Regions from separate parts of the Homo sapiens genome. Here region 2 is linked to region 1. Evidence: fine-mapped expression QTL. A gene starts in region 1. The other region holds a variant in brackets. All regions are shown on one strand. Distances are from middle to middle.

Region 1 (5,360 bases):
TGGACAGGTCTTATCATCTTTCTAGGCCTGAGATTCCTCATCTATACAGTGGAGTCAATGCCACCACACCATGCACTTCAGTAAGGATTGGGTGCCAGGCATGGCAAAGCCCCAGTGCCACCAGGGGCGCAGCACCTGCCCCATCAGCATCCGTATGATTGTTCAGAGCTGCAGGTGTGATGAGCCCTGGCTTTAAGAGAAGTCGTGAAGAAATTGGGATTGAAAGTCCTCTTTAGGAACACTTGGTATTGCCTGGCGCCATGGATCCCCTAATCCAAATGCCTTCATTCTTCAACGATCCATACTTTCCTTCTGGAATGCTCCATGGCCTTCTAAATCCAATTACACTTACTCAAGCCTTATCTGACGACCCTTTCAAAACCATTATGCCCACTGAATCACAGATTTTAGAAACTGGACAGGACAGTTTGGAGCAGGTGCAGGTTGGAGCCGCTCAGGTGCAGGTTGGAGCCGCTCAGGTGCAGGTTAGAGCAGTCCAAGTGCAGGTTAATCTTTTACTTCGTTAAATAAATAAATGTCTATGGCTTCTGAGATGGCCTGACAGTTTTGTGGATTGGATTGGGTTGCATTTGAATTTGTTCCCGCAGAACAAGTGGTCCTTGTCCTTCCGCAGCGGGAAGCGGCGTGAGTGATCTGGACAGACACGGCTTGTGGCCTTGAATCGGTGTTAAACATGCATGGCCAGAGGAGGGGGGCGAAGCCAGCCCAACCGGACTTGTGTCTCCGCCTGGGCCCAGTCTGTGAGCCGGGCCTGCAGTCCCAGCTTACACTGGGAGATGGCGCCCTTCCCCAACAGTTGGAATTTCCTGGCATCCGACCCAGCCCGGCTGCCTGAGATTACAGCATTAATCAGAAAAGCAGATCTGAGGGGCTCATTTAACTAGCGGGTCTCACACCCAGCACTCAGGCCAGGATCATCTTGGCTGCAGCTGAAGTCTCTTCAGCCGAGGACTGCGCACACAGAGAGAAAAGCCCCAGGAAGGCGTTGTTCCTCTCAGGCGGGCGCCAGGGAGGCGCGCTCCTTCCGGCCCGGCGTCCGTCTTTCAAATCCCATCCAGGAAGGGAGATTAATTTTCGCCCAGGCAGAGAAGAGTGTAGTGAGTGATCTGGAGGATTCTTTCCTTCCCAAATGGCTGGGAAAGCTTAATGGAAGGCCCCGGAGGAAGTGGCTTTCATCTCCGATTAGAAGCCTTCTGTAAATGCAAAAGCCCTATTAACGTGTTTGACCCAGTCAGGCCTGCGCTTCAGGTGGGACTGACACGCGTGAGTCCTGCTGCGGTCGCCGCAGAGGGCCGGGAAGAGGGGCAGCGTGCGCCACTTGCCCTGCCTCTGTGCCTGGGCGCCATGACTCGAGCGCCACCCCTGAGTCAGTAAGGACACCCCCCAACCCACACCCCTCCACCACAGACCCCAGTCCCCGCCCCACACACCCACCTCCCCAACACCAGGTTCATGGGCGTGGTCCCTTCAGCTCCTGAGGTCCAGGCCTGAGCCCCAGACCTTATGCAGCTCCTGCCGGGTGTGCGCCCTCCCAGGGCCCTCACTGCGCACCGCGGGCCACGGCAGACCACCCCAGCCCCCGCCTTGCTGTGCAGGTGTCAGGAGTGCCGGTTGGCTCCCTTCCTCCCAAGCAAGGCCTTAGGGCACCGCGGCTGCCCTGGGATCGCAGGGGCGCCTTTAGCTCTCCACCGATGCCCCGACGCCCCCCTGGCGCTGGAGGCCCTCGCGAGTCTGGCTGCTTTTCGGAGCCTGCCCTGCCTGCTGGGTTTCAGGCGACGGCCCAGGCTGGCTGGGACCCTCGAATCACCGCGGAAAAGGGCTCCAGTAGGCAGGACGGCGCCGTCTCTCTGCCGGCAACCTTTGCCCCAAAGCGGACCCTCTGCGGGGATCGGAGAGGGATGCCCCGGCGTGAGGATGGGAGAAGCCCCGGGACGGGAGGGCCGCGGGCCGTGCCCCCAGCTGGAGTCCCCGCGCCGCCGCCGGGTATTTTATGATCTGGGGGTGGTGGTGTGTCCGTCTCCTCATGTCACCCTGATCCCAACTCCTGGGCGGACTGGAGTTTGCAGACCTCGCTGCCAGCAGCCAGGGGGCGGCGGGGAGCCGAGCGAGAGGAAAAATCCACCCATTTCCTGGGCGGATTGCGTCGGTCCCGCCCGGCCGAGCCCCGCCTCCCGGCCGCGGCCCCCGCGCGCAGCCCGCGCAGCGCTCAGAGCCGGACGGCGCTTCCCGGTGGCGGCGGAGGAGCCCGGAGGGACGCAGCCGGGCAAGGCAGGGCGCAGGGCGGGCGGCGCGAGGCGCAGGGCGCGGCGGGCAGAGGCCACCTGGCCACCTTCCCTGGCGCCCGGGGAAGGCGCGGCGATGGCCGGGGCGCGCGGGGCGGCGGCGGCGGCGGGCGGGCGGCGGCGGGCCGAGGGGGCGCGGGGACACAGCCAGGCGCCCCTGCCCGCCGCGGTGCCCGCCGCCTGAAGGCCGCCTGGGCGCGGGAGCCGGTGCCAGCTCGGAGCGGGCGCTGGAGGCAGCTCGAGGCGCGATGTCGGTGCCGCTGCTCAAGATCGGGGTCGTGCTGAGCACCATGGCCATGATCACTAACTGGATGTCCCAGACGCTGCCCTCGCTGGTGGGCCTCAACACCACCAAGCTCTCGGCGGCCGGCGGCGGGACGCTGGACCGCAGCACCGGCGTAAGTGCGCCCGCCGGCCGCCTTGGCGCGGCTCCTCCTCCTCCTCCTCCTCCCCCTCCTCGGTCCGGAGCCCCGGGCTGGGCGGGCGCCGCGCGGGACCCGAGTCGCCCAGGGAGGCGGCGGGGAGCAGGGCGGGCAAGGGCAGGCGTCGCGGGCCGGCGCAGCGGTGGCGACCCTGCTCCCCGCTCCCCCAGCCTGGGCCACTCCATCTCCGCCCGCGCGCCCCTGGGGCGGCGTTTCCTTCGTCTGGGCCCCTCGCCGCGGGGCCGGGGGAGCTTGGTGGGTTCTCGGAGGCTTGGAGTCCTGGGTCAGTAATCATGAGCCCCCCATTGAAAAGGTTAGGAAACTAAGGCTGGGGACTTGGGGACTTGTCCAAGGTCACACTCAGCGAGTGAGGGGTGGAGCCGCCGCTAGACCCTAGTCTGGGCTCGGTCCAGCGGGGACTGAGCCCGCCCTAGTTTGTAAAAGCCAGACTGGCCGGACCGGGCTGGGAGTGGGGCCCCAGCCGGTGGGCTCCGGAGCTCCTGCCCGCGCCTGCATTCCCAAAGTCCCAAGGCGCCCTTTCCTCCCCAGTCCATAGGAGGGTTTGTTCCTTCTCCTCCGAGGACGGTGCCGAGGGGCTTGGGTGGGGCCCCTGGGAGCCTGCCCTTGGGCGCTCACCCCCTCGCCTTTGCCTTCGTCTTCTGCGCGCACCCCTCCCTCCTGGCCTCTGAAATTGAAATCGCGTCTCCCTCTCGAGCCTAGCGGGAGGGGAACCGTGGCCGGGGCTGCTTCTGGGCAGAGCTGACTTAGATGGCTGAGCGAGGCTGAGCTGAAACCGCCACCCGGAGGGCCGCGCGGGGAAGGGGCCGCTGCCGGGAAGGCGCGCCCCAGACCACTGGCCCTTTAGGCTGAAAGGAGAGGTGAAGGACGTGAGTCTCCCTCCCTCTCTCTTTTTGCTGCCAGGGGTTTAGTGCCCTGCGAAGAGGGCTCCGTGGTGTGGCTCCCTCCTAAGACCCCTCTTGAGGCCGCCCTCCCTGCTCCTTCAGGAATCGGAGGGCGATTCCTCCATGATGACTTTGTTCCGGCCTGCCGGTCCCGATCTTCTGGGGTTGGGAATGAATGAGATTAAAGATATGACTACTATAGATTCTACCCGCCCAACTTCTCCTCCCCATCTTCATGCTAAAAATAGCAGAGAGATGACCTGATGCCACCGGAGGGGAGCGTGCTCAGAGACAGTAGGGCCAGCAGCAGGATGGAGCTGTGTAGGCTCAGGAGTGCCCGCCCCGGTACCTGGCAGGGCTGGGCTGCAAGGTTAGACCAGACATGGGCAGCTCCGGTTTCTTTGGTGATCTTTGGGCAAACCTCAGGACTGAGGTTGGGGGTGACCCCTGCACAGCATGTCACCAGCAATTTGGCGACCTCCACCAAATGGCTCGTGGGGGGAGCCCACAAGGAGCTGGAAACCTAGTGTTTTCTCGGGTCGGTCTGTGCCACGCTGCCGGCTGGGAGGTTGCTGTAGCTCGGGGTTCATCACAGCTCTGGGCGAATAGGCTGCTGGATCTGGGGCTGTTACAGTGGGTGCTTCGTCTGCAAGTGTCAGGGAACGGCAGGGCGAGGCTTGGTGGTGCCAGCCACCCGTGCTTGACTTACGGGAAGGATATCCTGTTTCTGAAATACGTGCCCGCTGCAAGCCACCCAGCGTTTGCTTTCCTGCCTTGCTCCTAGTCCAGCCTGTGGCCTCCAGTTGCCCCTCCCATCCACCCAGCAGATCAATTTGGCCAGACGACAAACTCCAGACATCCCTTGAGTTGAACTTAAATTTTAAGAACGTAAAGGGTCTTGCCTCTTTGACATCCTTCCAGCCCTGAGCCCCCTAACAGGAGACCTGTGCCTCTTTGTTCCCAGGGACCCTTTCTTCCCTTTGGGTCAAACATGTCTTGGGACCATTTCCTCCCATCTTTTCCTTGGGGGTGGATGTGGACAGTTTCCCCTGGTTGTTGGCTCTGATACACAACCTCATGGTCTCCCTTTCTCTCCTTCCCTCTCCCTTCCCGCCCCGCCCCTCTCCAGGTGCTGCCCACCAACCCTGAGGAGAGCTGGCAGGTGTACAGCTCTGCCCAGGACAGCGAGGGCAGGTGTATCTGCACAGTGGTCGCTCCACAGCAGACCATGTGTTCACGGGATGCCCGCACAAAACAGCTGAGGCAGCTACTGGAGAAGGTGAGTCTGCGCAGAGTGTGTGAGTTTGTATGTGTGTGTGTTTGTGTGTGTGTGTGTGTGTGTACATGCCTGTGTGCTCACACCAGCACCAAGGCTTGGCTAGCTTGCAGGCCCCATTTTGACTCTTTCCTGGTTTGTCTCCACTCAAAATATTTGTGAATGAGTGAAAGGGTGGATGGACGGATGGGTGGATGGGTGGGTGGATGGATGGACGGATGGGTGGATGGGTGGGTGGACACACAGGTGGATTGAGACTTCCAAGGGTGGTCCAGGAAGAGAGGACTAGACCTGCCCCCTGTCACCACAGGCTCCACTGAGAAGTCACATGGGCATGGTGAGACGGGACACAAGGCTCGTCTCTGAGTGATGTCATAATCTGTGTGCACAGGGCTGGGGCTGTCACCCAGCAGCTACCTTGGAGAGCGCCCATAGGCCCAGGAATGCATGGCCATTT
Region 2 (5,360 bases), 170 kb before region 1:
TTTTTTTTTTTTTTTTTTGAGACAGAGTTCCGCTCTTGTTGCCCAGGCTGGAGTGCAATGGCACCATCTCAGCTCACTGCAACCTCCGCCTCCTGGGTTCAAGCAATTCTCCTGCCTCAGCCTCCCCAGTAGCTGGGATTACAGGTGTGTGCCACCACACACAGCTACTTTTTTTTTTTTTTGTATTTTTAGTAGAGATGGGGTTTCACCATGTTGGTCAGGATGGTCTCGATCTCTTCACCTCATGATCCACCAGCCTCAGCCTCCCAAAATGCTGGGATTACAGGTGTGAGCCACGGTGCCCGGCTGGGGATGGATATATTCTTAAGGGATGTCTGAACGTGGCATCCAGGAAAAAAATCAACCGGAAATGTCAGAAAATCCCTTGTTGCTATCAGGCCCTCAGGGATGGCTTTCTGTTTCTAAACACCTTTCCCGTTATTTCAGAGAACTGAACATGCCCCACTGGAGTTCACTGGGTGGAAGGGAGCATTCTTTCATTTTGAAAGTGTACCTTCTCCTTCTAAGGGTTGGTGAGCCACTAACACAGCAGTGGGCGAAGCTCTAATTGTAGTTTCTTTTGCAGGAATTTGAGGCACCTGAGTGGATTCCTTCAATCATGCCACAGGGCAGTGGGCAGGGATAATGGACCAGCAATTATACAGACTGCCTCAGGACCAGCTGTGAAACTCATCCCCTGCCCCAGAGGGTTGGGGGGAGGCCCTCTCACTCAGGTGAGTGCGGCTGTGGGGGGCCTGCTGAGGCGTGGGCTGGAGGAGGCGAGCGTGGGCTCTCCATGGGACTAAGATGCCAGCTTCAGAGGCAGATCAACAGCTGGAGATGGGGGAAGGCTACCCCAAGCCCCAGTGGTCTCTCTCCTGCTTCCCACTCTCAGGATCTAAGATGCCAGTAGGACCAAGACCTGAAGAGGCCTTCAGCCCAGGGCTCTAACCGTTTCCCTTCCCGATGTTGCCAGAGCCTGCGGCAGGGGACGCAGCCCTTAGAGGTCCCAGTGCCACCTGAGTGTGCTCAGGGCCCAATCCCCTGTGGGCCAAGAGGTGCTTATGTTGCAGATGGCCCAGGCCTAAGGGGCAGGAGCACCTCAGGGCCCCCCAACCCCTGAGCCACGGCAGTGGCCCTACCCTGGGCAGTCAGGGCGTGGATGTTGTCATTCCCCAGCCAGAACTCCCCCAGCTGACTGCCGAAGCCCTGCTTGTATGCGGCCCAGTCCCGATAGAAGTCCACAGAGCCATCCATCCTCCGCTGGAAAACCTGTGAAGAAGCCAGGATACAGAGTTAGGCGGGGCAGGCCGAGGTCCCACAGCACCGGGGACCCGCCCTCCAGAGGAGCAGCATTTGTAGTTGGCAGAGCATCACAGGCCGGTGCCACACGCACGCCCATCTGGTCTCCTCACAGACTCCACAGGATGAAAGAGGAAATGCGGTCTCAGAGAAGAGAGGCAACAAGCCCCAAGCCACACAGCAGGAGAGCACCGGTCCCCTCCCAGCCTCCCCGATGGCCTGGACTTTTACCCACGGGTCACTTCCCCCATCATCTATGATTGTCCCCATCCAGGGGAATAGAGAATTCCAGAGTGTGTTCTACAACCAGGTGTGCAGCCTGGCCTCCGGGACTCCCAGGCTGACCGCCTCTGCCCAGCCCCACACTCACGGTCCAGCCCCCTCCGTCCGTGTCCATGTCACAGAGCACAGTCAGGGGCCGGCAGTCGGGCAGGTAGATGGTGTGCCAGCCGCTCAGGAAATACCCCCGGTCTAGCAGGTCCTTGCAGTTGCGTGGGCCTGGGAAGGGAACCCGGGGAATGGCTGCAGGACGGGGGCCCTGGGCAGGACAGGGGCAGTGGGAGGGAGGCCCAGGAGGGAGGAGGAGGGCCACAGGCTTCTGTGCGGACCGAGCAGGACTCCGAGGCCTGGACAGGGACACGGCCCCCAGGGCCACGCAGCTGTGATGCCCACACCCAGTCTGCCGACCCTCCCACCTCCCAGTGTCTGCCCCACCTTTGCCTCCTGGGCACCCGGCCTTCTAGGGTAGATAATAGTAGAGCCCAGGTTGTCATGGAAGGGATTCAGGTGATAGCTGCCCATTACTCGAGTGATTGAGGGGGGGATGATAGGTGCAGACAGGGTTCTGTCCTTAGATTCCGTAGCGTGAACGTGTGCAGCTGGCCCCAGGGGTGGGGGCAAGGCTTGGGTACCGAGGTCAGGGTGTGATCAGTCACCTGTCGCACACGACTGAGACTGCCCAGCGTCTCCTGTGTGGGGAGAGGAGACACTTGTCATAAGCTTGAAATCAGAGCCTTTGTCCTGGTCAGCCCCAGTGGCTCCCTGAGCACAGAATAGAGAATGGGCAAAGGCAGCTCCTCTGATGTCTCCAGGACACGTGGCACAGGCCTAGGGAAGGATGGCCAGACTCGACTTCCCCAGAGGCACCAGCCACATGGTTGTCCATAGGCCCCTGCTGTGCAGCTTGAGCTTGGTGGGCTGTGGCAGGCGCTGCGGGTCCTGCTGGACGAACTGGACCCCTAGTGGGGCCTTCGCCACTGATAACAGCGGAATAACTCTTCAAGCCTGGCAGGGTCACTCCAAGCCTGCCCTGCCTCCGCCCTGGCCTCTGTTTCTTGGGACTCAGGTATCGGCGGACCCTCAGCCCCCGGCTCCGGTTTTCATTTGTGTTTGTGGGTGGAGCGTGGTACAGTGTATTAGAGTCTTGCACATTTGGCTTTTTTAAACTTTTACAATTTTTGCATAAATGAGCATAAGTAAGACAGAAATTGAAATATTGAAGTGTCACCATCTATGCACTGATGTGGTCCTGCTGGCCACTGGGAGTGACTGCTGTAGACACCAGGGTTTGAGCCCTCGTGGATTCTGACAACAAAGCCCGCTGGACTCCTTCCACCCCTCCCTGCCCACAGCCTGGATTGACAGGGACGTGGGCGGTGGGCAGGCGGACTGAGGCCTCTGAGACCCCTCCCCTGGACAAAGCCTGCAGAGACAACTGCCTGGGCCCACGGGTGGCTCACCTTTCTCTCCACGCATCCCCTTCTCTCCT[C/T]GGTCTCCTGGAGGAAGAGGCAGGATAATGAGCTTTTGACCCCAGATGTGTGGGCCACGGAAAGGCTGGTCCAGAGTGGGCTCCCGGCCTGGACACTGCATCTCCCCAGCCCTGCAGGCTCACTAAGGCATCACAACGCCCAGGTCTCAATGGTGGGGAGGGGCCCCGAGGCCTGGAATATCCCAGGGTCCCTGTCCGCCTGCCACTGTCTTTCTCTCTCTGTTGCCGTGTCTCTCTGTGTCTGTGTCTGTGTCTCTGTCTCTGTCTCTCCCTCCCTCATTTCATTACAGACAGCTCCAAGGTCCCTGCTCAAGGCCTCCTCGCTGTCTGTCCCCTGGTTACCTTTGGGCCCCACTGGTCCTGCCTTTCCAGGGGCTCCAGGGAGACCGCGTTCTCCTGAAAATTCCAAAGACATATCACTGAGAAAAATGCAACCTAAACAATTCTCCCTGGAAATCTTTGCCCCAAGTGGTTAAGTCCTGACCCTCCCCCACTCTGCCTTGAACCCCTTCTGGTTCCAGGAGCTCTCAGAATTGCTAGCCATGGATTTAGCCTGGGGGTGACTGCAGATGGAGGTGAGGGATTGAGGGAGGGGCCTGCACCCCACCTTGGGCTCAAGGCAAGGTGCACCTTGCTCCTGTTTGTGCCTTGGGAGCAACCTGGGTTTCACACTCTGTTGACCATAAGCCTGGACCCAAGTCACCCACACAGAGCTCTACTGCCTAGCAAGGGACCAGGTTCTGGAACAAAGAATGCGTCCTCAGAGAGCCTCATCCTACCACGTCCCCACACGGAGAGGGTGGGCGCCACGTGCAGCCGCTGCTGCCAGGGAGGATCCGGTTCCACCGTGCGCCTGAGCTCCTGGGGTGTCACACAGCGCTCCACGTGGTTCTGGCCAGAAAGGTGACCCTCCCGTCCCCGATGCCAGCCAAGAGGCAGCCCCCAGCCCGCTCGCTGACCCCAGTGGCTGGGGAGAGTGTATGGGGGCTGGTTCTTGCTTTAGGGTATATTAGCCAGCCATGCCCACTGGTAGAAGCCTGGTTCAAGGGAAGTCTGAGCCAGACTTGATTCTTCTCCTGCCAGGGAAGGTCTTCCTCCCCAGTGTTCCCTCAGCAGGGGATCGGGACCGCACTCTCAGGTCCAGCCTGCGGAGTGGGCACAGAGGACCTGGCCCCGGACACCCACACGGAAGCCTAGACACGTCAGTGAAAGTCCAAGTCATAGGGACATTTGAGCTTGTCCCATCTACACTGGGACATCCCCACCAAGTGCTCCGCAGGCATCATCTTGAATGCGTCCAGGCATGGGGAGCTCACCCCCTAAGGCAGCGCCCTTTCTGAGTTTTTGTGCACGTCTGCCTTATGCCATGCTTAGGGGGACCCAAAACCACCCAAGGCAGGTGCCTGCTGTTCATTCTCCCATGTTCCCTGCAAATCCACATGCAGAGCTCAGGGCTCAGGATTCGGGTGCCCTCTGTGCCCTGAAGTAGACCAGTCCAAGTCCCAGCCCCACTCCTTACTGGTTTGTCAAGTAGGAAAGCCTGTGACCTCTTTGAGTCTCAGTTTTCCCATATGAGGCAGGTGCAGAAGAAAGCGGTCACCTCAATTTTCAGGTGAGAAGGTGGAGGGACACAGAGCTTAGAAGTCGTGCCAGTAGCTGAGCAAAGCTGGTATTGGATCAAGGACTAGGAGACAGAGCTACAGAAGCATGTCCAAATGTGAGCTCATGAAATAGTTAGGAAAGACCCTCCCTCCATTTCAGAACCCTGTTGGGCCCTGGGAGTCAGCTCTGTTCCTGGCTCTAGCAGGGGCCTGACCCAGGCTCTTGATCTAGGAACCACGGTGGGGGTGTTGCCCAACTCTGCATCCAGTTTCATAAAGAGCAAGAGCCAGTGCCCCTGCCATGCCTGGCCTCCCCACCCGGCCCGCACCTACCTCTCTCTCCAATGACACCTGCCTCTCCCTTTGGCCCTGGGGCCCCGGGCAGCCCCGGGCAGCCTCGGAGAATGGTGAGCTTGTCAGAGCCCTCCAGGCCCACCACCTTCACCTCTGCAGAGAAACACAGGTGCCCACTCAGTGCCTGGCCCAACAGTGGCTGGGAAGTGAGGTTTTCTGCTCTGCTGGGGCCTTGGTCTGTCCTCACCCCTCAGGCACTGGTGAGGCGGAGATGTGATGGGGGGCAGAGCTCTGGCTTTGGAGGCCACCCCGACCTAGGGGAGCCCCATCTCCTCAGTGCTGTGTGTCCTGCAGCAAGTAACTTAACTCCTCTGAGCTTTGTGCCCTGGGCTGCC

The links. PIP is the estimated chance that this variant, and not a neighbour inherited with it, causes the effect.
Region 2: its variant is fine-mapped to the expression of OLFM1 in whole blood (TOPMed, PIP above 0.99).

Annotation. Positions count from the first base shown.
Region 1 is chr9:135,085,439-135,090,798 of GRCh38, forward strand. It overlaps OLFM1 (olfactomedin 1), which reads left to right and starts at 2,230. Exons shown (of 6, transcript NM_001282611.2): 1 at 2,230-2,701; 2 at 4,757-4,906. The coding sequence starts at 2,552. RefSeq lists enhancers at 530-1,390, 1,391-2,251, 2,886-3,690, 3,691-4,494.
Region 2 is chr9:134,911,344-134,916,703 of GRCh38, forward strand. It overlaps FCN1 (ficolin 1), which reads right to left. Exons shown (of 9, transcript NM_002003.5): 2 at 5,005-5,118; 3 at 3,413-3,466; 4 at 3,042-3,077; 5 at 2,238-2,270; 6 at 1,673-1,800; 7 at 1,143-1,272. Among named protein-coding and RNA genes, the nearest start is that of FCN1, 3.9 kb to the right of the region's middle. The variant C/T (reference allele first, on the strand shown) is at 3,071.